Homo sapiens: one gene and its partners. The protein of the gene in region 1 purifies or fractionates together with the protein of each later gene. This does not show direct contact. Each region holds a gene or a part of one and is shown in the gene's direction. Other genes may lie near its edges.

What was found. The genes of interacting proteins can lie anywhere in the genome.
Region 2: the proteins of PMPCA (region 1) and NUDT8 purify together in Homo sapiens (affinity purification with mass spectrometry; 2 studies listed by BioGRID and IntAct, with this or other methods). This does not show direct contact.
Region 3: the proteins of PMPCA (region 1) and CLUH purify together in Homo sapiens (affinity purification with mass spectrometry; 2 studies listed by BioGRID and IntAct, with this or other methods). This does not show direct contact.

Annotation. Positions count from the first base shown.
Region 1 is NC_000009.12:136,419,760-136,424,896, forward strand, and holds the end of PMPCA (mitochondrial-processing peptidase subunit alpha isoform 1 precursor), read left to right. Parts: intron 1-2,072; coding exon 2,073-2,217; coding exon of another isoform or gene 2,218-2,501; exon of another isoform or gene 2,502-3,325; intron 3,326-3,335; coding exon 3,336-3,505; 3' UTR 3,506-4,002; downstream 4,003-5,137. UniProt on the Homo sapiens protein: Substrate recognition and binding subunit of the essential mitochondrial processing protease (MPP), which cleaves the mitochondrial sequence off newly imported precursors proteins.
Region 2 is NC_000011.10:67,626,686-67,634,680, reverse strand, and holds NUDT8 (mitochondrial coenzyme A diphosphatase NUDT8), read left to right. Parts: upstream 1-4,743; 5' UTR 4,744-4,769; coding exon 4,770-4,963; intron 4,964-5,629; coding exon 5,630-5,762; intron 5,763-6,280; coding exon 6,281-6,358; coding exon of another isoform or gene 6,359-6,376; exon of another isoform or gene 6,377-6,429; coding exon 6,430-6,735; 3' UTR 6,736-6,743; downstream 6,744-7,995. Other genes in the region: T-box transcription factor TBX10, read left to right, coding at 321-492, 1,578-1,733, 2,011-2,078, 2,269-2,363, 2,787-3,076. UniProt on the Homo sapiens protein: Acyl-CoA diphosphatase that mediates the hydrolysis of a wide range of CoA and CoA esters yielding 3',5'-ADP and the corresponding 4'-phosphopantetheine derivative as products.
Region 3 is NC_000017.11:2,688,135-2,694,990, reverse strand, and holds the end of CLUH (clustered mitochondria protein homolog), read left to right. Parts: coding exon 1-134; intron 135-426; coding exon 427-511; intron 512-714; coding exon 715-868; intron 869-951; coding exon 952-1,091; intron 1,092-2,071; exon of another isoform or gene 2,072-2,130; coding exon 2,131-2,211; intron 2,212-2,294; coding exon 2,295-2,420; intron 2,421-2,508; coding exon 2,509-2,630; intron 2,631-2,893; coding exon 2,894-2,987; intron 2,988-3,095; coding exon 3,096-3,230; intron 3,231-3,308; coding exon 3,309-3,382; intron 3,383-4,213; coding exon 4,214-4,397; 3' UTR 4,398-5,604; downstream 5,605-6,856. UniProt on the Homo sapiens protein: mRNA-binding protein involved in proper cytoplasmic distribution of mitochondria.

The DNA of each region.
Region 1 (5,137 bases):
TTTAGTAGAGACGGGGTTTCGCCATGTTGGCCAGGGTGGTCTTAAACTCCTGACCTCAAGTGATCCGTTGCCTTGGCCTCCCAAGGTGCTGGGATTACAATTACAGGTGTGAGCCACCATGCGTCCCTGTTTACTAATTTTTTAAGCTTAGTTTTTGATGCTTTACACATTTGGGAACCTCGTTACTTCCTGGACCAGAAGTGGTACAAATAAGCAAGTTTTATACACACACTTTTTTTTTTTTTTAGACAGAGTCTTGCTCAGGCTGGAGTGCAGTGGCATGATCTCAGCTCACTGCATCCTTCCACCTCCCGGGTTCAGGTGATTCTCCTACCTTAGCCTCCTGAGTAGCTGGGATTACAGGCATGTGTCACCACCCTAGCTAATTTTTTTGTTTTTTGTTTTCTGTTTTTTTTTTTTTTTTTTGAGACGGAGTCCTGCTCTGTTGCCCAGGCTGGAGTGCGGTGGCATGATCTCAACTCATTGCAACCTCCGCCTCCCGGGTTCAGGTGATTCTCCTACCTCAGCCTCCTGAGTAGCTGGGATTACAGGCACCCACCACCACACCTGGCTAATTTTTTGTATTTTTAGTAGAGATGGGGTTTCACCATGTTGGCCAGGCTGGTCTTGAACTCCTGACCTCAAGTCATCTGCCCATCTCGGCCTCCCAAAGTGCTGGGATTACAGGTGTGAGCCATTGCACGCAGCCCCATGGCTAATTTTTGTATTTTTAGTAGAGACAGGGTTTCACCACGTTGGCCAGACCGGTCTTGAACTGCTGACCTCAGGTGATCCACCTGCCTTGGCCTCCCAAAGTGCTGGGATTACTTTGGGATCCCGGTGTGAGCCACCGTGCCCGGCCAGGAAAAAAAGCATTCAAGAAATAAAGTTGTGGTTAAATTAATACGCTTCAGTTCCACTAGTGCACTGCTAGAAAAACAGTCCTCCACTAACGTGAAGTCAACTTGAAATAAATATGAAGTATTTAGGTATTTGCCTAAAGTTGCAAAAAGACCTAAGAATTGTTTTACTTAAAAGAAATGGTATAGAGGCCAGGTCCGGTGGCTTATGCCTGTTTTCCCAGCACTTTGGGAGACCAAGGTGGGAGGATCACTTGAGCCCAGGAGTTCAAGACTGACCTGGGCAACATAGCAAGACCCTGTGTCTATTTAAGAAAAAAAAAAAAAAGTGTAGCATCTCTGCGGCCCATCAGTTTTTGGTGTTTGTTTTTCAGTATGCTGGCTCCTAGATCTGCATGTCCTTCTCACAGCACCCCTGCCTGTGCCCTGAGACAGTCTGAAGGCAGCCTAGGACCCGCACTGCCTCCCTCAGAACCTCCCAGGGACTTTGCTAAAACCAGCTGCCTGGGCCCTGCGCCGGAGGCGTCTGGGGAAGCCCCAGAACCTGTGTTTCATTTGTTTTCCCCGATTTTGCCGTGTGGCCACTTTGGGGCCCTGGCATTTGGGAGTTAACTATTTTACCTTCTCCCGCTGCATGTCACACAGACAATGAAGAACTCAAGGGAGGCACATTGCTCCTGTATTTCAAGTGTGGTAGAAGCCGGGTAACACGTAGCACAGCCCTTCCCTAAAAAACCTGAAGGGGAGACCAGCAGGGTTGCCTGTGACTTGGGCCTGGGTTCCCGTTTTTTTTTTTTTTTTTTTTTTTGAGACAGAGTCTTGCTCTGTCGCCCAGGCTGGAGTGCAGTGGTGCGATCTGGGCTCACTGCAAGCTCCGCCTCCCGGGTTCATGCCATTCTCCCGCCTCAGCTTCCTGAGCAGCTGGGACTACAGGCGCCCGCCACCACGCCCAGCTAATTTCTTTTTGTATTTTTAGTAGAGAAGGGGTTTCACTCTGTTAGCCAGGATGGTCTCAATCTCCTGACCTCGTGATCCGCCTGCCTCAGCCTCCCAAAGAGCTGGGATTACAGGCGGGAGCCACTGCGCCCGGCTGCCCTTCCCTTTCTTATGTTCAGCTTTGGGCACAGAGATGGCGTTTTGCCATTGCTCGAGTGGGGGGTGGAAGGTGGCACGGGGCGGGTGTGTGCTCACCTGACTGGACCCTGGCCCCAGGTGGAGCTGGAACGAGCCAAGACGCAGCTGACATCAATGCTCATGATGAACCTGGAATCCAGGCCTGTGATCTTCGAGGATGTGGGGAGGCAGGTGCTGGCCACTCGCTCCAGAAAGCTGCCGCACGAGCTGTGCACGCTCATCCGTGAGTACCGCAGGGGTAGTGAGGGGCTGCCGCAGGCCTCGGCCAGGCTCAGAGGAGGCCGTCTCGCCCTCCCGCAGGCCGTGGTGGGCCTGTGGTATGTCCATCACACCCAGAATCTGGGGCCTTCACCAGTTGTCCTCAGCAGGGGCGGCCAAGGGCAGGGTCGTGGGGTCGCAGACCTGGTCTCACTTCCCGGCCCCACCATGCACCTGCTGCCTCCTTGGCAGGTGACCCCACCCTCTGCACCCCTGGGAGGGGCTGTCACTACTGCCCAGAGTTGTTAAAGAGCACTCAAGTTAGTAGGCGAGAAGGGCTCAGTAGAGGACTGCTACATTGTACGTGGAGTAGCAGTGGCTCGGAATGCCGCTGTACCGTTGCTGGCTCTCGGGCAGGAGTCTCAGCCCCAGGTTTCCGGGGCCCCCATGAGTGACCTTAGGAGGTCTGAATTTCCTGAAACTGCCAAGTTGTATGTGCATCGGACTCTTCTGGGGGACAGGCTTAAAACCTGGCAAGGCTGCCTATTACGTTGGGGTGGCTCGGGCTTATGGTGTCACCTGTGGGCATCTCCTTTCCAGGCCTGGAGTCCCGGGCACTTGCCCTGTCCCGTGTGGGCCCTCGTCCTTCCCTCAGGAGCCCCCGCTTAAATCCTCAAGCGAGTGTCCAGCCTCTCTCGGGCCTCGTTTTCTGTAGAAAACAGACCCACCTGGACCCTATCACTCCTGTCCTGGGGTTCCTGGGTGCAGCCCTTTGGCCTTCTCTCACCCCACCCTTCTGTCCATGCGGCCCTCGGGGGCTGGGGGTTTTTTCTGCAGGCCGTCCTAAAGTGAGTTCATCAGACACGGAGCTCGCTCTTCTGTAAGTGTAACTCTTCTTGGGTGGCTTTGTCCTATATTTTTAAGTCATTGCCATGTCCCCATTTACTGAGAACTCAACGTCTGTCACTTGTGGACTCACCCTTGGCTACACCCAGTGGCTGCCTTTGGGCCCAGGTGCCCCCATCAGCAGCACAGCGTGAGTGAGTGGTACAGACCAGCCGCCCCCTCCGTGTGTTTACTGATGCAGCCTCAGCGTGGGGGCCGTGGCGCGCTCGTGTGACACGCGTTTGCCCTCTGCACTAGGCAACGTGAAGCCGGAAGATGTGAAGAGAGTCGCTTCTAAGATGCTCCGAGGGAAGCCGGCAGTGGCCGCCCTGGGTGACCTGACTGACCTGCCCACGTATGAGCACATCCAGACCGCCCTGTCGAGTAAGGACGGGCGCCTGCCCAGGACGTACCGGCTCTTCCGGTAGAACCGCTCCCCGGCCTGACAGACCCAGGGAGCTGCAGCTGGAGCCCGTTCCCGTGCGTGTTAGTTTGGACACGAATTTAGTCTAAAAAGCTGTCTGGTTGTATAAACGGTGCAAACAATGTCGCCACAGCACCCACGCGGTTTGCATTCTTTTGGAACTCAATGTGCCGATCAGTGGAGTCAGTATCGAGCCTGACCACCGCAAGCCAGGAAGCAGGTGAAGTGCCCAGCGCTGGAGTGCAGCGTGCCACGAGGAGGGCGGTCGGTGCTTCCCTCCTCGGGCTGTGGGCACATGGGGCCCCGCAGGTTCCTTGGAGGAGCCCTGAGCTGGGAGGCAGCAAAGGCTGACCTATCAAAGCCTCCCGGAGGCCACCGTGCTGGGTACCAGGACTCACCTCTGACAAGCAGGAGAAGGTAAGGGCCCGGTCAGCTCCAAGGAGCGCGCTCCACGCGCGTGCACACAGCTTCCCTGGTAATAAAGAGCTGGCATCTTTCTTAGCACGGTGTTTTCCTTCTCGCCTGGGGAGGGGCGGTTCTTAAGGGCTGTCTGAATTGGCAGCTTTTCTAACATGGAGGCCTTCCTCCCTGTCAGTCGTCCGGTTTGACCCCGTGTCTTGAAGCCTGTTCTCGTGCGACGTGCTGATGTCAGGGGTGTCGCAGCATGCATGGGGTGGGGTGACGGGGGGTAATGGTGACCGGCAGCGAAGCCTGCAGGTGCCTTAGAGGTGGGGAGCACCGCCAAGCCGAGGAACGGCCGCAGATGTGGGTGTTTCCAGAGATCCGAAAGGCCGCATGGCTTAGGGAATAGCGGCTACGGGGTAGCCTTTCATGTGGTGTAAAAACTTGTACAAGAGGCCGGGCGCGGTGGCTCACGCCTCTAATCCCAGCACGCTGGGAGGCCGAGGCGGGCGGATCACCTGAGGTCGGGAGTTTGAGACCAGCCGGACCAACATGGAGAAACCCCGTCTCTATCGAAAATACAAAATGAGCTGAGCGTGGTGGCGCATGCCTGTAATCCCAGCTACTTGGGAGGCTGAGGCAGGAGAATCGCTTGAACCCGGGAGGCGGAGGTTGCCGTGAGCCAAGATCGCGCCACTGCACTCCAGCCTGGGCAACAAGAGTGAAACTCCGTCTCAAAAAAAGAAACAAAAACAAGCAAAAAACGTGTACAAGTTAAAACTTGTAACGTGGTTCTCAAACACCCATAGAAACCTCGGGAGCTCCAAGGGGTGTGGGGAGGTCGGGCCTGGGAACCTGCATGGGCCACCTGCGGTGCTGCCTGTAGTCCAAGGGTAGCTTCCTACATGTGTGACTCCGTGGGCTGCACAGAGCTGTGTGGCACAGTTTTGTCAGGAGGAGAGAACGTCTCTGGTCCTGTCTTTTGAGTAGCTGAGAGGTGCAGCCTCTTTGCAGGACCGATGGGAGAGGGAGTGGATATTTTCAGGAAATTAAACTTGTAAGCTTTACTCCTCTTAGCCTCTTACTGTCCTCTGGCTGTTGTAGTTTCTGTAAGACCTGGTGCCTTTACAACACACACACTCCAGCGACGGTGACTGCTTGAATTTGCCCATGTGGGAAGCGTCAGCTTGCTGCCCACCTGGTGGGATTGGAGGGCCGGAGCCGGAGGACGATG
Region 2 (7,995 bases), on another chromosome or scaffold:
AGACACGCAACAACAGCCTGAGGGCAGGAGGCAGCCCAGCTCAGGGTACCCAGCAGACTTCCATGGGTAGTGGGCTAGCCTTGGGCAGGCAGAGAGGTCTAGCCCAGGGCAGCAGGGGTTATCCTGTCATCCACCAGCCAGGTGCAGCCACAGGGAACTCAGGTCTCAACAGGATTCTCTTGAGCCTTGGGTTCCTTAGCAAGGTGCCCACCAGGTGGGGTGAGCAGTGTTGGAGTCGGCAGCAGCCCCTTCACCCCGCCTGTATTGTTCAGGCGTGACTCTGGTTGGGGAAGCCCTCACCACCTCGCTGTGCTCCCCAGGTATGCCTTCCACAGCTCGGCCTGGCTGGTGGCGGGCAAGGCAGACCCAGCCACACCTGGCCGCGTGCACTTCCACCCCGACTCGCCAGCCAAGGGTGCCCAGTGGATGCGCCAGATTGTGTCCTTTGACAAGCTCAAGCTGACCAACAACCTGCTGGATGACAATGGCCACGTGAGGCCGGGGCCACGGTGGGGACGGAAGGGCCTGGGGTCAGGGCTGGTAGGGACTTTGGTGTCCAATGGCCTTGGTGCCCAGCACCTCTGCCTGCTGCTGATGGTCAAGGCAGGGCGGGGAGCCGGGGTGGCGAGCTCACCTGGCTGGGGGTGGCACAGCAGGAAGGGCTGTCCAGGCAGGTGGAAAAGGGGGTGGGGGCGGGGGAATGTTCCAGCATACGTTGTCCCCCGCAAGGAGAGGGAGGACAAGGTATGGAACGCCCAGCCTAGGCCGGGCCCGCTTTATGTGTGGACACAGCATCATTAACACTTGGTCAAACAGCCAACGATCCCTGCCCTCACAGAGGTCACTTCCTGGGGCAAAGGCAGGGTCCAGAAGACACTGTCCCCAGCGTCTCAGATAGGGACAAATGCCAAAGAGGAAGCAGAGGTACGGAAGGGGGGCGGAGAAAGGGTGCTGCTGCTCTCAGGGGGCGCAGGGAGCTGAAGACCTGAAGGAGGTGGAGGATGCAGCGGCCCATGCCCGTCAGAGGGGACAGTAGGTGCAAAGGCCCTGAGGCCAGAGAATCCTGGGCCGGCAGAATTGCAAGACGCATCCATGGGGCCGGAGTGGAGCCAGGAGGGGAAGCCAAGGAGGCGAATGCCTGAGGGGTCGGGCTGACTTCGGGGGGCTCTGGCTTTTACCGTGTGGGGTGGAAGTCGCTGGACGGTTAGGAGCAGGGGGCATATGATGTGGCTTCCCGGGCAGCTGTGTGGAGAAGGAACAGAGGGGTAAGGCGGGGACAGGGGACAGGCCAGGAGGCAACCGAGGAAACTGGTGAACGCGACAGTGACGGGCCAGCACACAGGCAGTGGGTGGCAGCTGGGATGTGGGGTGTGAGAGGACATGGAGGCAAGGATCCATGATCCAAAGGGGCCTTTGACACGGAACTGCAGCCTCTCCAGCTCAGACCCTGTGCTGCCATGAAAGGAACAGGGTGGCAGGCCCAGGGCAGTCTCCCGGCTTGGAGGGAAGGACTCCAGCCTCAGGGAGTCCGCTGTACTCCGCCTCACCCCTGTACCCCTGCTCTGTCCCTTCCACAGATCATTCTCAACTCTATGCACCGCTACCAGCCCCGTTTCCACGTGGTCTTCGTGGACCCACGCAAGGACAGTGAGCGCTATGCCCAGGAGAACTTCAAGTCCTTCATCTTCACAGAGACCCAGTTCACAGCAGTGACAGCCTATCAGAACCACAGGGTGGGTGAACCAGCTCGGGAGCACCCGCTGCAGGCCCATTTCACAGGGGTGGAGACTGAGCCCTGAGGCTTGCAGCCCTCACTGGCACAGACTACTGCCCTCCCAACTTGCCCTGAGTATCTGCCATCAGTCAAGGCCCTGCCCGCACTCCTATCAGCTCAGAGTTCCTGGGCCAAGAGGCCCAGGTGCCAGGGCCTCCTGACTGCCGGTTCCCGGGAGGACAAGGTGGCTGAGCCTGGCTCATGGCCAGCCCACAACTGCACTTTGTCTCCTGCAGATCACCCAGCTGAAAATCGCCAGCAACCCTTTTGCCAAAGGCTTTAGAGAGAGTGACCTGGACTCCTGGTACTGTCTGACCCTGACCCTAGCCCCTCACCCCCACCCCAGGCATATCCTAAGGCCTCAGTTCCTGACCCTTGTTTCAGGGTCACACCCTCTGACCCATCCTGGGGCCCCACCATCTGAAGCTGGCCATGATCCCTGGCCTGGGTTCTTCCCCTTGATCCCCTCCCCCCATTCTCGCTTGCTCTTTCAGGCCTGTGGCCCCACGGCCCCTGCTCAGTGTCCCAGCCCGGAGTCACAGCAGCCTCAGTCCCTGTGTGCTGAAGGGTGCCACAGACAGGGAGAAAGGTAAGGCCCCAGGCCTGCAGACATAGTGGGACTAAGGTGTACACAGTGGGCGGAAGGCAAAGGGACAGGACCTCCAGGAAGGGGCTTCAGCAGCTCAGCGAACCCACAGGGCCCCTGTGTGGACACACGGAGGGGGAAGCAGACATGCCTAAGACAATATGGGGCTCAGGGCAAAGAGCACAGGCAGGGGGTGCCAGGCAGGCTTCCTGCAGGAGGTGGCTCTCAAGCTGGGCCTTGGAGGACTGGGAAGGGTTTGGACAGAGGGAGAAGGTGAAGAAGAAATTCCAGGCAGAGGGAAAAGCAAAGGCGAAGGCTGAGAGGTAGGTAACTTGGGAAGGAGGAGCAGGAAGGGACCAGGGCAGGCCTGGGATGAGGGATGAGGATGCGATGGGAGGCCCAGAGTCCACTCATTTCCTCCCTCAGACCCCAACAAAGCTTCAGCTTCCACCTCCAAGACCCCTGCTTGGCTCCATCATCAGCTGCTGCCCCCACCTGAGGTCCTGCTGGCCCCGGCCACCTACAGGCCTGTCACGTATCAGAGCCTGTACTCTGGAGCCCCGAGCCACCTAGGGATCCCAAGGACCCGACCAGCACCATACCCCCTCCCCAACATCCGGGCTGATAGGGATCAAGGAGGCCTGCCTCTCCCAGCTGGGCTGGGGCTCCTGTCCCCCACTGTGGTGTGCCTGGGGCCTGGCCAGGACTCCCAGTGATGCCAGAAGCCCTGGGGGGAAGCCCTGCTACCCTGGACCTTACACCGGGTGTGGGAATCAGCCTCTGCCCCGCCCCCTCCAGCCCCATCTCTGTCTCAAGGAGAGCAGGGTAGGTGAAAGTCTAGAGAAAGAGGCTACCTGCCCAGGGTCACAGCAAGGCTGGGACCATGGCAAGCTTGGAACCAGGACTTCTATCTCCCAACCCCAGCAGCCTGAATACTGTGCCCTCTTGCTTTGGGGGTAACTCCCGAAAACCCTGCCTTACCTCTCCCTTCCCCCTAACATTAAACTATTTGGCATGAGTGGTCAGAGCACTTCTGTCGTCGTGGTCAGGGTGGGTGGGGGCCTCAGGAACTCCCAGACCCATCATAGTCCCCACATCAGCCCTGTAGGCATCCCGAAGCTCTGCCCAGTGCCGTCCGCATCCCTGGGAGCACACAGTAATATTAAAAGTGGTGACTCCAGCCCAGTGGCAGGGCTGCACTTGCCCAGATGAGGATCGAAACTGGCGCTCAGAGAGGCGCGGGACCTGCTCAACGTCACACAGCAGAGCATGGCGGACACCCGCCACCCCACGTTTAAATGCTGTGCGCAAGGCTGGGGTCATCTGGTCCCCAAGCCCAGGGTCTGGTGGAAGGGCGCAGAACCACGGTGGTCAGTGACCACAGGGGCCGAGGTAGGAAAGGGGGAGGGATTTGGGAATCCGGTCAAGACTCAAGGCAGGAAGGGAGAAGAGCTCTGGACGCTGGGACAAGGAGGTCAAAGGCCTGGGGCTGGAGTCCGACGGAGCCAGAGGGGAAGACAAGACTGGGGGCGGCGCGCGCCACCCAGCGGTATCGGGAGGGAGGACCGGAGGGAGGGCTGGGCCGGACGCTCCTCTCGCGCACCGATCGACCTCGGGTTCCTGGAGGGGCGTCCCCGTGGGATCCCGGCTCCGTACATCCTGGAGCCCCTAGGGGAGGGACGGACCAGTGGGGGCCGGCGGGGCCTCATCAGACACCCCAACGCCAGGACCCAACGGGACCGAGGACGGTCGCCGGGCGCTTCACGGTTCGCGTGGTTTCAGGATCTCGGAGAACACAACCGGCAGGTCCTGCAGCTCCGCGCCCATCTCCCTCCCCGCGGCCACACCCCCGGCCACGGCCCGGCCCTGCCGGAAGCACAGTCCTCCTGGCCACGCCCCCCAGTCCTTCGTAGCAAAAGCTCCGGTCCAGGCCCCGCCCCCAGCCCGCCCCAACCTCGATTGCCTACTAGGCCCCGCCGCCCTTTGGCAGTAACGTCCGAGTCCGGCTCCCGCGCAGGCCCCGCCCCGCCCCGCCCCGCCGCCCTCCGTCCCTCCCATCCGGGGGACTCAACGCGTCCCACCGAGGCCCCGCCTTCAAACAGGCCCCGCCCCCTAACGGACCCCGTCCCACCGAGGACCCGCCTTCAAACAGGCCCCGCCCCCGAACAGACCCAGTCCCACCGAGGCCCCGTCTCCGGGAAGGCCCCGCCCACGAACAGACCCACCCCACTGAGGCCCCCCGACGCCGCTGCCGCTCTGCAGCCCCCCAGGCGGGACGCGTCGCGCGGGCTGCCCCTTCTCCCTCTCAGCTTTCGGAGGGACCCGGGCTGAGCGCCCCGCCCCGCCTCGCCCCGCCTCTTCCCTCGCCCGATCCCGCGCCCTCAGTGTCCCGGCCGCGCAGGACTTGACATGCTGCCCGACTGCCTGTCGGCCGAGGGCGAGCTGCGCTGCCGCCGGCTGCTGGCAGGGGCCACGGCCCGGCTCCGCGCGCGGCCCGCGTCGGCCGCGGTGCTCGTGCCGCTCTGCTCAGTGCGTGGGGTCCCGGCGCTGCTGTACACGCTGCGGTCCAGCCGCCTGACCGGGAGGCACAAGGGCGACGTCAGGTACAGCGGCCGGGAACTCCTCGCCCTTTGCCGGAGGCTACAGGAGCCCGGGGCTGGCAGGGACCTCTGGCAGGGCACTTAGCCCCTTCGAGCCTCGGTTTCCGCCTCCGTAAAATGGGTCTGGGGAGAGTCCCTCCGCCCAAGGGCTGCAGCGAGAGGTCAGCGATCCGTGTCCGTCGGCCCCGGTGCACCTGCCGGGGCGCCACGTCCTCGCCGCGTGGGCCCCTCGTACGCGTCCTTGCGCGCACGCCTGGGCCGGGACACCCCTTTGAGCTGTTTCCCGCTTAGAGGGCGGACGCCGCCCCCTGCCGGCGACTACGGAGAGGTTCGGGCCCCGCCCGGCGGGAATTAAGAACATCCTGAGGACAATGTCAGTGTTGCTGGGGCCACCATAGGCCGAATTTGGGTATCTGAGCCCCAGGATCTTCTTGCCCCTGCTGCAGACCCTCTTATCCTGCGCTGTCCCGGGCCTCTCTTCCTTATCCCCATTGCTCAGGGAGGTAAACTGGCCTCCAGAGGTCGCATGGCTTGCCTGGGGCCTCCCAGTAAACTAGGGGCAGAGGCAGGCGACACTTCGGTGGGCCAGTGGCCCCCCCCGCACTGCCGATACCCCGACCTCTCCGTGGCCCCAAGAGTCCAAGGACCAGACTCCTTGTGTCTGTTTAGTTTCCCAGGCGGCAAGTGCGACCCGGCTGACCAAGATGTGGTGCACACGGCCCTGCGGGAAACCCGGGAGGAGCTGGGCCTGGCAGTGCCCGAGGAGCACGTGTGGGGCCTGCTGCGGCCTGTGTATGATCCGGTAAGCCACTTGGCTGAGGCCACCCCACCCCATTCACTCACTCTGTGCCTGCCCTGGAGCTGGGCTACCAGGGACCAGGAGAGTGGTCATGGACCCCCACGGGCACAAAGTGTGGAAGGGTGCCCCTAACCTGCCTGGTCACATGCACCACCCCACACACCCCCTCGGGAAGGGATTGGGGAGGCTCTGGTGTCCTGAGTAGAGGTGGCCCAGGGCGATGGGGTGGGCCAGCTCCACTCAGTTTGGTGGATTAGGGTCAGGGAAGCTTCATGGGGTAGGCAGGGATTGAACCCAGGCTTGAATGCCAAGTGGGAGATTGTCCTAAGCAGAGGGAACAGGTCTAGTGCATTTGAGGGGACCTGAGTCAGTCAGCATGGCTGGAGGACACAGGCAGGTGGACCCGAACATGACTACCAAAGGCCTATGCATGGCAAAGGGGTCTTCCTCTCACACTCCCCTCCCCAGCCTTCAAACCCAGCGAAGGCCATGCTTCCCTGACCACCTGCCCTCTTCCCCAGCAAAAGGCCACCGTGGTGCCAGTGCTTGCTGGTGTAGGCCCACTGGATCCCCAGAGCCTCAGGCCCAACTCGGAGGAGGTGAGCTGGGGGATATGAGGGGGTTGGGCTGTTCCAGTCCTCTGTCTACCCTCTCTGCCTCCTGCCTGCAGGTAGATGAGGTGTTTGCACTGCCGCTGGCCCACCTGCTGCAGACGCAGAATCAGGGCTATACCCACTTCTGCCGGGGTGGCCACTTCCGCTACACACTACCCGTCTTCCTGCATGGACCACACCGGGTCTGGGGCCTCACAGCTGTCATCACTGAGTTTGCCCTGCAGCTGCTGGCACCTGGTACCTACCAGCCCCGCCTGGCCGGCCTGACCTGCTCAGGGGCTGAGGGTCTGGCCCGCCCTAAGCAGCCCCTGGCTTCACCCTGTCAGGCCAGCTCCACTCCAGGACTGAATAAAGGTCTTTGACAGCTCTAGAGCTCTTGCTTCTGCTGTACTGGGGCCTTGACCTTGGGCAGACCACTCCAGGTCGCTGGCTGGGGCTCCTCCTTCCAGTCACGCCATGCCCCACAGCAATGGACACTTCCTGGGTGCCAAGTACTTGGAGTCAATTCATCTCACCCTCACAACAGCCCATAAGGCAGGGCCAACACTGTCTCTGGCTGGTGAGACTGCTTTCAGGGAGGAGAGACACCTTGCCTAAGGGCCCCACGCTGGGATTGGAACCAGAGCTCTCAGACTCCACAGCCCAGACTCTTAGGCACTGCACTGCCCTGTCTCAGCCTGCACCTCCTGTTCTCTCTGCTGTGCCTGGCTGACGCTGTGCTGGGCTCCGGGATCCCAGAGAGGAGTAAGGCGCACCCATGCCCCTGGGTGTTACTGCAGGAGTCTAACATGCAGAGCCCCTGTGTGTGCCAGCTGCTGTGTGGGGGCCACAGCTGTGGACCGGTCAGATGCTCACCTGCCGTCCAGAGGGGGTGCTCAGTCTAGGGGAGACCTCAGACCAGGTCACACAGATAATCATGTGGTTCCACATTAATTAATCACAGATAATAGTGGAATTATATAAGACATCAACTAGGTAGACCAGGGTTCTGTGAAAGAGCTGAGGGAGCGGGTGGTCTGAGCTTGCCGTGGAGGATGGCTGGATCCAGGGGCTCGGGCTCCCCTCTTGCTGTGCTTTGCGCTGTGCTGGCCTCAGCCCCAAGGAGGTTGTCTGTAGTGCAGAGCGTGAGAGGTTGAGGAGAGGGCAGCAGCATCCATCAACAGAAAACACGGCCGCTCCTTCCCGGCCAGTCTAACCTAGAATTGCACTTCACTGGCCTGCCTTGAGTCACATGTCCTTCCCTGAGCCTGTCACATGGCCGGTTGTGTGTCCGGAATTGGTGGGTTCTTGGTCTCACTGACTTCAAGAATGAAGCCATGGACCCTCACAGTGAGTGTTACAGCTCTTAAGGTGGTGCGTCTGGAGTTTGTTTCTTCTGATGTTCGGATGTGTTTGGAGTTTCTTCCTTCTGGTGAGTTCGTGGTCTCGCTGGCTCAGGAGTGAAGCTACAGACCTTTGTGGTGAGTGTTACAGCTCATAAAAGCAGTGTGGACCCAAAGAGTGAGCAGTAGCAAGATGTATTGCAAAGAGCGAAAGAACAAAGCTTCCACAGTGTGGAAGGGGACCTGAGCGGGTTGCCACTGCTGGCTCGGGCAGCCTGCTTTTATTCTCTTATCTGGCCC
Region 3 (6,856 bases), on another chromosome or scaffold:
AAGCGGAATAAGAGGAGGAAAAACCGGCCCCCGGGGGCTGCAGATAACACAGCCTGGGCTGTCATGACCCCCCAGGAGCTCTGGAAGAACATCTGCCAGGAGGCCAAGAACTACTTTGACTTCGACCTCGAGTGGTGCGTGCGGGGCAGGGGCGGTGGGGTGGGTGGGATTGGGCAGATGAGGCGGCCACCACCTGCTCCCAGATGGCGTCTAAGGCCTGTGGTCATAGGCCAGGGAGTCAGAGAGAAGAGGGAGCAGCTGTGGAGATCACTGGGTGCTGGAGGGTGAGGGCAGCCGGGAGGCTCCCGGGGGCCGGGTGGGGCAGTGTTGGGGGCCCGGGCTGGACAGCGTTGGGGAGCTGGGTGGGGCGGTGTTGGGGGGGCCCGGCGGTGCTTGGGCTGCTCAGGCCCCCTGCTCCCTCCTCAGTGAGACCGTGGACCAGGCTGTGGAGACCTACGGCCTGCAGAAGATAACGCTCCTGCGGGAGATCTCGCTGAAAACAGGGATCCAGGTGGGCATGGCTCACAGCATCCCCGCTGTGTCCCCGCTGTGTCCCCGCTGCGTCCCTGCTGCAGGCTCCCACTCCTGGCCAGGGCCACAGGGGAAGTGGCTTTTTCACGGTAGCCGTCTGTGCGCAAGCGTTGGTGGGTTGGGAGGTGCCAACCCGCTGAACCTGGGCCTGAGGCTTCCTGTGGTGGGGGGGCTGCCCCCCAGGTCCTGCTGAAGGAGTACAGCTTCGACAGTCGCCACAAGCCCGCGTTCACCGAGGAGGACGTGCTCAACATCTTCCCCGTGGTCAAGCACGTCAACCCCAAGGCCTCGGATGCCTTCCATTTCTTCCAGAGCGGGCAGGCCAAAGTGCAGCAGGGTGTGTGGCCAGGTGGGGCTGGGTGGAGGTGGGGGTTCCCCATGGCCCGTCCTGACCTTGCCACCCCTGGGGGTGCCCTGCAGGCTTCCTGAAGGAGGGCTGTGAGCTCATCAATGAGGCCCTGAACCTGTTTAACAACGTCTACGGAGCCATGCACGTGGAGACCTGCGCCTGCCTGCGCCTCCTCGCCCGCCTCCACTACATCATGGGCGACTACGCAGAGGTACCCTCTGGGCTGTGGCAGCAAAGGCCTGGCCTCGTGTTGGGGGATGGGGAGTGAGGGGGCCCCTGACGGAGGAGTGGGTGGAGTCCAGGGAGACCCCAGGAAGTCGCTGGTTCTGCCCAGGCCACCCCTGGCTCCACCCCTCTGTAACTGTGTCCCGAGCGGGAGAGCTCAGGAGCACCCTGTGCTGCGGTGAGGTCAGTTCTGGGAGGCGATGGCAGGGGACCCCCCCACAGGGCGTCAGCAAGGACGCCTCCTGAGACTCCGTGAGTGGGCAGGAAGCATGCCACCGAGCTCCCACGTCCTCTGTGCCCAGTGCAGGCTGTGGGGTTCTGGGTGCCCTGCCTGGCCGGGGCTGGTGGAGGCTGTGGTGGGGTTCTGGGTGCCCTGCCTGGCCAGGGCTGTTTCAGGGTTAGCATGTCTTAGGATCCCTACTCCCTGCAAAGGGACTGTTTTTTCTTCTGTTTATAAATGGGTGGGTTGTTTGTTTGTTTGTTTGTTTCTGAGACAGGGTCTTGCTTTGTCACCCAGGCTGGAGTGTAGTGGCGTGATATCGACTCCCTGCAGCCTCAACCTCCTGGGCTCAAGCGATTCTCCCACCTCAGCCTCCCGAGTAGCTGGGATTACAGGCGTGAGCCAGCACACCCAGCTAATTTTTGTATTTTTAGTAGAGATGGGGTTTCATCATGTTGGCCAGGATGGTCTCAAACTCCTGACCTCAAGGGACCCACCCCTGCTCAGGCTTTTTTTTTTTTTTTGTAACATTTTTAGTAGTTTTAGGTTTGTATTTGGGTGTTTGTGGAGATTTTGTTGGGTGTAAGACATGGGTGTGTGGAGCTCTCTGTGGAGCGTGACCTGCCCTTCAAGGTGTGGCAGCAGCTGCTGCTGATCCCCCTCCCCCCTGCTGCACTGTGCTGGGCGCAGCCGGAGGGGACAGGAGCCTGCAGAGCGGCACCGTGGGCTGCTGGGCCGGGGCCAGGCGGGCTCTGGGTGCAGTGGGGGTTCCCACGCCGCGGCAACCACCACTGTCTCTCCCCAGGCCCTGAGTAACCAGCAGAAGGCGGTGCTGATGAGCGAGCGGGTGATGGGCACCGAGCACCCCAACACCATCCAGGAATACGTGAGTCGCGAGTGCCGCCCGCGCCGGGGGATGCGAGGGGCTGGGTCCGCGGCCACCCTGACCTGTCTCCGCCCCGCCCGCAGATGCACCTGGCCCTGTACTGCTTCGCCAGCAGCCAGCTGTCCACCGCCCTGAGCCTGCTGTACCGCGCCCGCTACCTCATGCTGCTGGTGTTCGGGGAAGACCACCCCGAGATGGCGCTGCTGGACGTGAGTGCTGGGGCGGGGGGGCGGCAGGGACCCAGCTCCATCCCAGGGGACCGGGAGCTGACCAGGGCCCCCCACCGCCTGCCCCCAGAACAACATCGGGCTGGTGCTGCACGGGGTGATGGAGTACGACCTGTCGCTGCGCTTCCTGGAGAACGCGCTGGCCGTCAGCACCAAGTACCACGGGCCCAAGGCCCTCAAGGTGGCCCTCAGGTGAGGGGCCGCCCGTCCAAACGCCAAGGCCGGCGGAGGCCTGCGGGGCAGCCGGCGGGGGCGGGGAAGAGACCCAGTGCTCCTGTCTTCCTCCACCCGAGAAAATTTCTCTCGACCTCCCCCTCTTCCCTGAGCCCTGGACTTGCTGTTCCCCTCGGTGGCTTCCAGGGAGGGATCTACGGGAGACCCCGGGCCCCCGAGTCAGGCCCCCACACCCAGCCCACTTATGCCCTTCCCTCGCCCCGCGCCGCGCCTCCCGGCAGCCACCACCTTGTCGCCCGAGTCTACGAGAGCAAAGCTGAGTTCCGGTCGGCCCTGCAGCACGAGAAGGAGGGTTACACCATCTACAAGACGCAGGTGCGCGGCGGGGGCGTGGCGGGGGCGGGGGCGGGGCGGGGGCGTGGCGGGGCGGGGGCGGGGCCGCGGGGGCACGGGGGGGCCTGATCCCTTCCCGCCTCCCCGCAGCTGGGCGAGGACCATGAGAAGACCAAGGAAAGCTCCGAGTACCTCAAGTGCCTGACCCAGCAGGCCGTGGCCCTGCAGCGCACCATGAACGAGATCTACCGCAACGGCTCCAGCGCCAACATCCCGCCCCTCAAGGTGAGTCCGGGGCGGAGCGGCCCCTCCGGCCCGGCGAGCGCGGGAGCCCCGCTCACCGCTGGTTTCCCCGCCCCGCAGTTCACGGCCCCCAGCATGGCCAGCGTCTTGGAGCAGCTGAACGTCATTAACGGCATCCTCTTCATTCCTCTCAGGTGAGGCCTCCGCCCCACTCGAGTGTCTCCCGGTTGGGGGTTTTTTGTGAGTCGGAGTCTCGCCCTGTCACCCGGGCTGGAGTGCGGCGGCGCCATCCCGGCTCACTGCAGCCTCCGCCTCCCGGGTTCAGCGATTCTCCTGCCTCAGCCTCCCCAGTAGCTGGGATTACAGGTGTCCGCCACCTCGCCCGGCTCATTTTTGTGTTTGTAGTAGAGATGGGGTTTCACCACGTTGACCAGGCTGGTCTCGAACTCTTAACCTTGCGATCCGCCCGCCTCGGCCTCTCAGAGTGCTGGGATTCCAGGCGTGAGCCATCGCGCCCGGCCCGCCCCGCTTATCTTCCCCAGCATCCTCGCATTCCGCGAGTGAAGACCTTGGTGTTTCTGCTTCACACAAAGTATCTTGGCGTTTTCCCACCAGTCCCTAAGAAGCGGCTTCATTCCCTCCCCACGCTTCCCATCCTGCGGCGGGGGGGGGCTGAGGAGCAGGCCCCGGGCTCCCCGGGGTGGCCACAAGCAGTGTGGCCTCCTGTGGGGAGTGGATTTGGTCAGCAAGGCGTGGCAGCAGCCCCCCAACTCCGCTTTCCTCCCCCTGCGCTGGAGGGAGGCCACCGAGGGCAGCGAGGGGAGCCCCGAGGCCGGGTCAGGTGCGGGGTCCTTACCTTCTCCGTGTTCAGGGACCTTCCGCCTTCAGGAGGGAAGCGCTTGTTCACACACATTCCCCACTGAATAGAGCGCAGAGCCTGAGCTTATCCCACAGGAAAGCCGGGAGGCGGGTGGAGCCCCCAGGACTCCTCTGAGAGCCACCTCCATCCCCACCCTTATCCTCAGCCAAAAAGACCTGGAGAATCTGAAAGCCGAGGTGGCGCGGCGGCACCAGCTCCAGGAGGCCAGCAGAAACAGGGATAGAGCCGAGGAGCCCATGGCTACCGAGCCCGCGCCAGCGGGGGCCCCAGGAGACCTGGGCTCCCAGCCCCCGGCTGCCAAGGACCCTTCTCCGAGCGTGCAGGGATAGAGAGGGAGCCAGACGGACAGCCAGCCAGCGGCCCCGTCACCAGGGAGCCCGACTGCGGGAGAAGGGGGCGAGCCTGCGGGCGGAAGAGGAAGCAAGGCCCTCTTCCTCCACGTCTCACCCCACCCCACCCCCGTGTCCTCCTGGGAGCCTGGCCTGCCTGCCCCGCAGAAGGTGTTTTTGCGCTGGTTCAATGAATAGATGATGCAGAGGCCCCATTGGAGACACGTGAATGGCGTGTGCGGCCATCAGTTCCCGGCTGGGGGGCAGGTGTTGCTTCGGCCCCCGCCGTCCGGCCGGCGTGTGCGAGTGCGCCCCTGGCTGTGAGTGTTGACCGTTCCTCTCCCCTGTACATAGCCCGAGCCAGTCCTGAGTGGGTGACTCCTGAGTGGGTGACGCGCAGACGGGATTTCTCAGGTCATTTGTATGGTCGACATGATGGCTGCTGCTTTGGCTGCCACCACCCCCGGGCCCAGCCTGTCTGAAAGTTCAGGGTTTAGGCCGAAAAACCCGGTGGGGAGGGGTGGGGAGCCGGAGCTCTGTGGCGGGGCTGGAGGGCTGGGGTGCACTTTAGTTTGGGGCGGGACGGGAGCCGCCGTTGTGACTGGCGTGGTCTGGCTGCTGCTCCCGAACGGAGGGGTCGGGGTTGGCTTGCTGGGCCCTCAGAGCCCAGTGGGTGGCTCTGACTCGGCTCCCTACTCCCTGCACCCAGCTGGGCGCAGCCTTGGGGCCTGCGGTCTGAATGTATCCCTCCCCTCAGTTTTAACCTGAGCTGCCGAACGCACAGTGGGCCGGGGGCGAGGCTGGGGGAAGCGGGGCCCAATTACGGATCCCGGGAGTTACAGGTGCCGACGTGATGTCGCTTCTCTGGTGCCCAGCTCCCTTCCTGGTCTGAGACTAGCTCTGGGGGTGGCGGGGGCCCCCACACGCTGCTCCCGCTCCACCCTGCCCGTGCTGCTGCTCTGTGCCTGCTGTCAGAGCCCTGGTGGGGGAGGATGTGGCCACCCTGAGACCCGGAGGAGACGGGCGTCTGCCTGGGTTTGCGGAGAGCCGCTTATGGGTGTGGTCCGTCCAGACACCTTGTTTCAAGGGGGATGGGCGTGAGCGGGCAAGCAGAGCATCCCCACCGCTGAGCAAGAACTTTTTCTTGTTTTTAAACCATCACGTCCTCATTTCACATTGGAATAAAGTGAGTTTTTGAAACCTGCGGCCCCAGGCTCACCTGTGTGTTCTGTAACCCGGTCTGGGTGGATGGTGAGGGCTGACAGGAATGTGACTGGGAGAGGAATAGATACAAACGAGGTCAAGTTCGAGGTCACGCTTACATTGTCACTTGAGTGGGAGGTAAGGGGGTGGAATCACAGGCACTCAGCTGGAATTCACCGAGCTGCCAGTCCGTCACCAGGTTCGCGGGAGTGTCGTGCAGGTGAATGTCACCTGTCACCAGGTGCAGAAGAAACTGTGAAGGCCAGGTGGGGAGGGGTGCTGGGCTGTGGGGCCAGGCCCTGTGCATGCTGGACCCGTGAGGTCACTGAACACCCCCCTGGCTGGCCACCTGCCCCTGTCTCTTCACTCGAGGTAGGAAGGAGGGTGGGCAGCACTGCCCAGAGGTGAGACACTGGGGGCAGGGAGGAGGGCCTCAAGTTCGCCACCCTCGGACAGGATTCAGAGAGCCAAGACCCAGGTGGACTTGAGCGGCAGAGCCTGTCTCTAGAGGGGAAGTTGAGCTCTCAGTAGCTGCTGACCGCTGCTCGCCATCTGTCTCCAAGAGCAGGCCCTCGGCCCCACCAGGAACATACGCCTTTTGGGATGCTTGGAGAGATCTGTACGTCTTGGAAATTCTGAAAAGAAAAAAATTCCATCCCTGAGTCTGTCAGTTTTCCTGAGCCAACCGGAGAAAAGGTGCTTCTGACCTGGCGGTTTTAGGTGACACCCGGGGACAGCCACCAGCGAGTGAGTGTCCTGCTACAGAACCTCTCAGACTTCCCAGCAGCCCCAGCCCAGCAGCAGCTTCCTTTGCTCTCACCGGTGTGTCCTGAACATTCTGTCCCCTCTCCTGAGTGTTTGTTGTTGAACGTGAGCCACATGTTCATGCACCTCTCAAAACAGGGCCTCCTGTGAAGCTGAGAACAGATCGGGGTTGGTTAGGGTTGTGCCTCCTTGTCACCTGAGAGGCCCCTATTTCCTGGCTGATCCTTTAAGCGTATTAGTGCCCTCAGACATCTTTTGACGACCCAAATGACAAGGGGCTGTTTTCATAAAGCAAATGGAGGCCCTAGGTGTGAAATCCACTCTTTCTCCTTCCCTTCTTTTAGGTGACAGGTTTCAACTTTTTAAAAAGTGGGCCAGGCGTGGTGGCTCACGCCTGTATTCCCAGCACTTTGGGAAGCCAAGGCTGGTGGATCATTTGAGGCCAGGAGTTCAAAACCAGCCTGGCCAACATGCTGAAACCCCATCTCTAC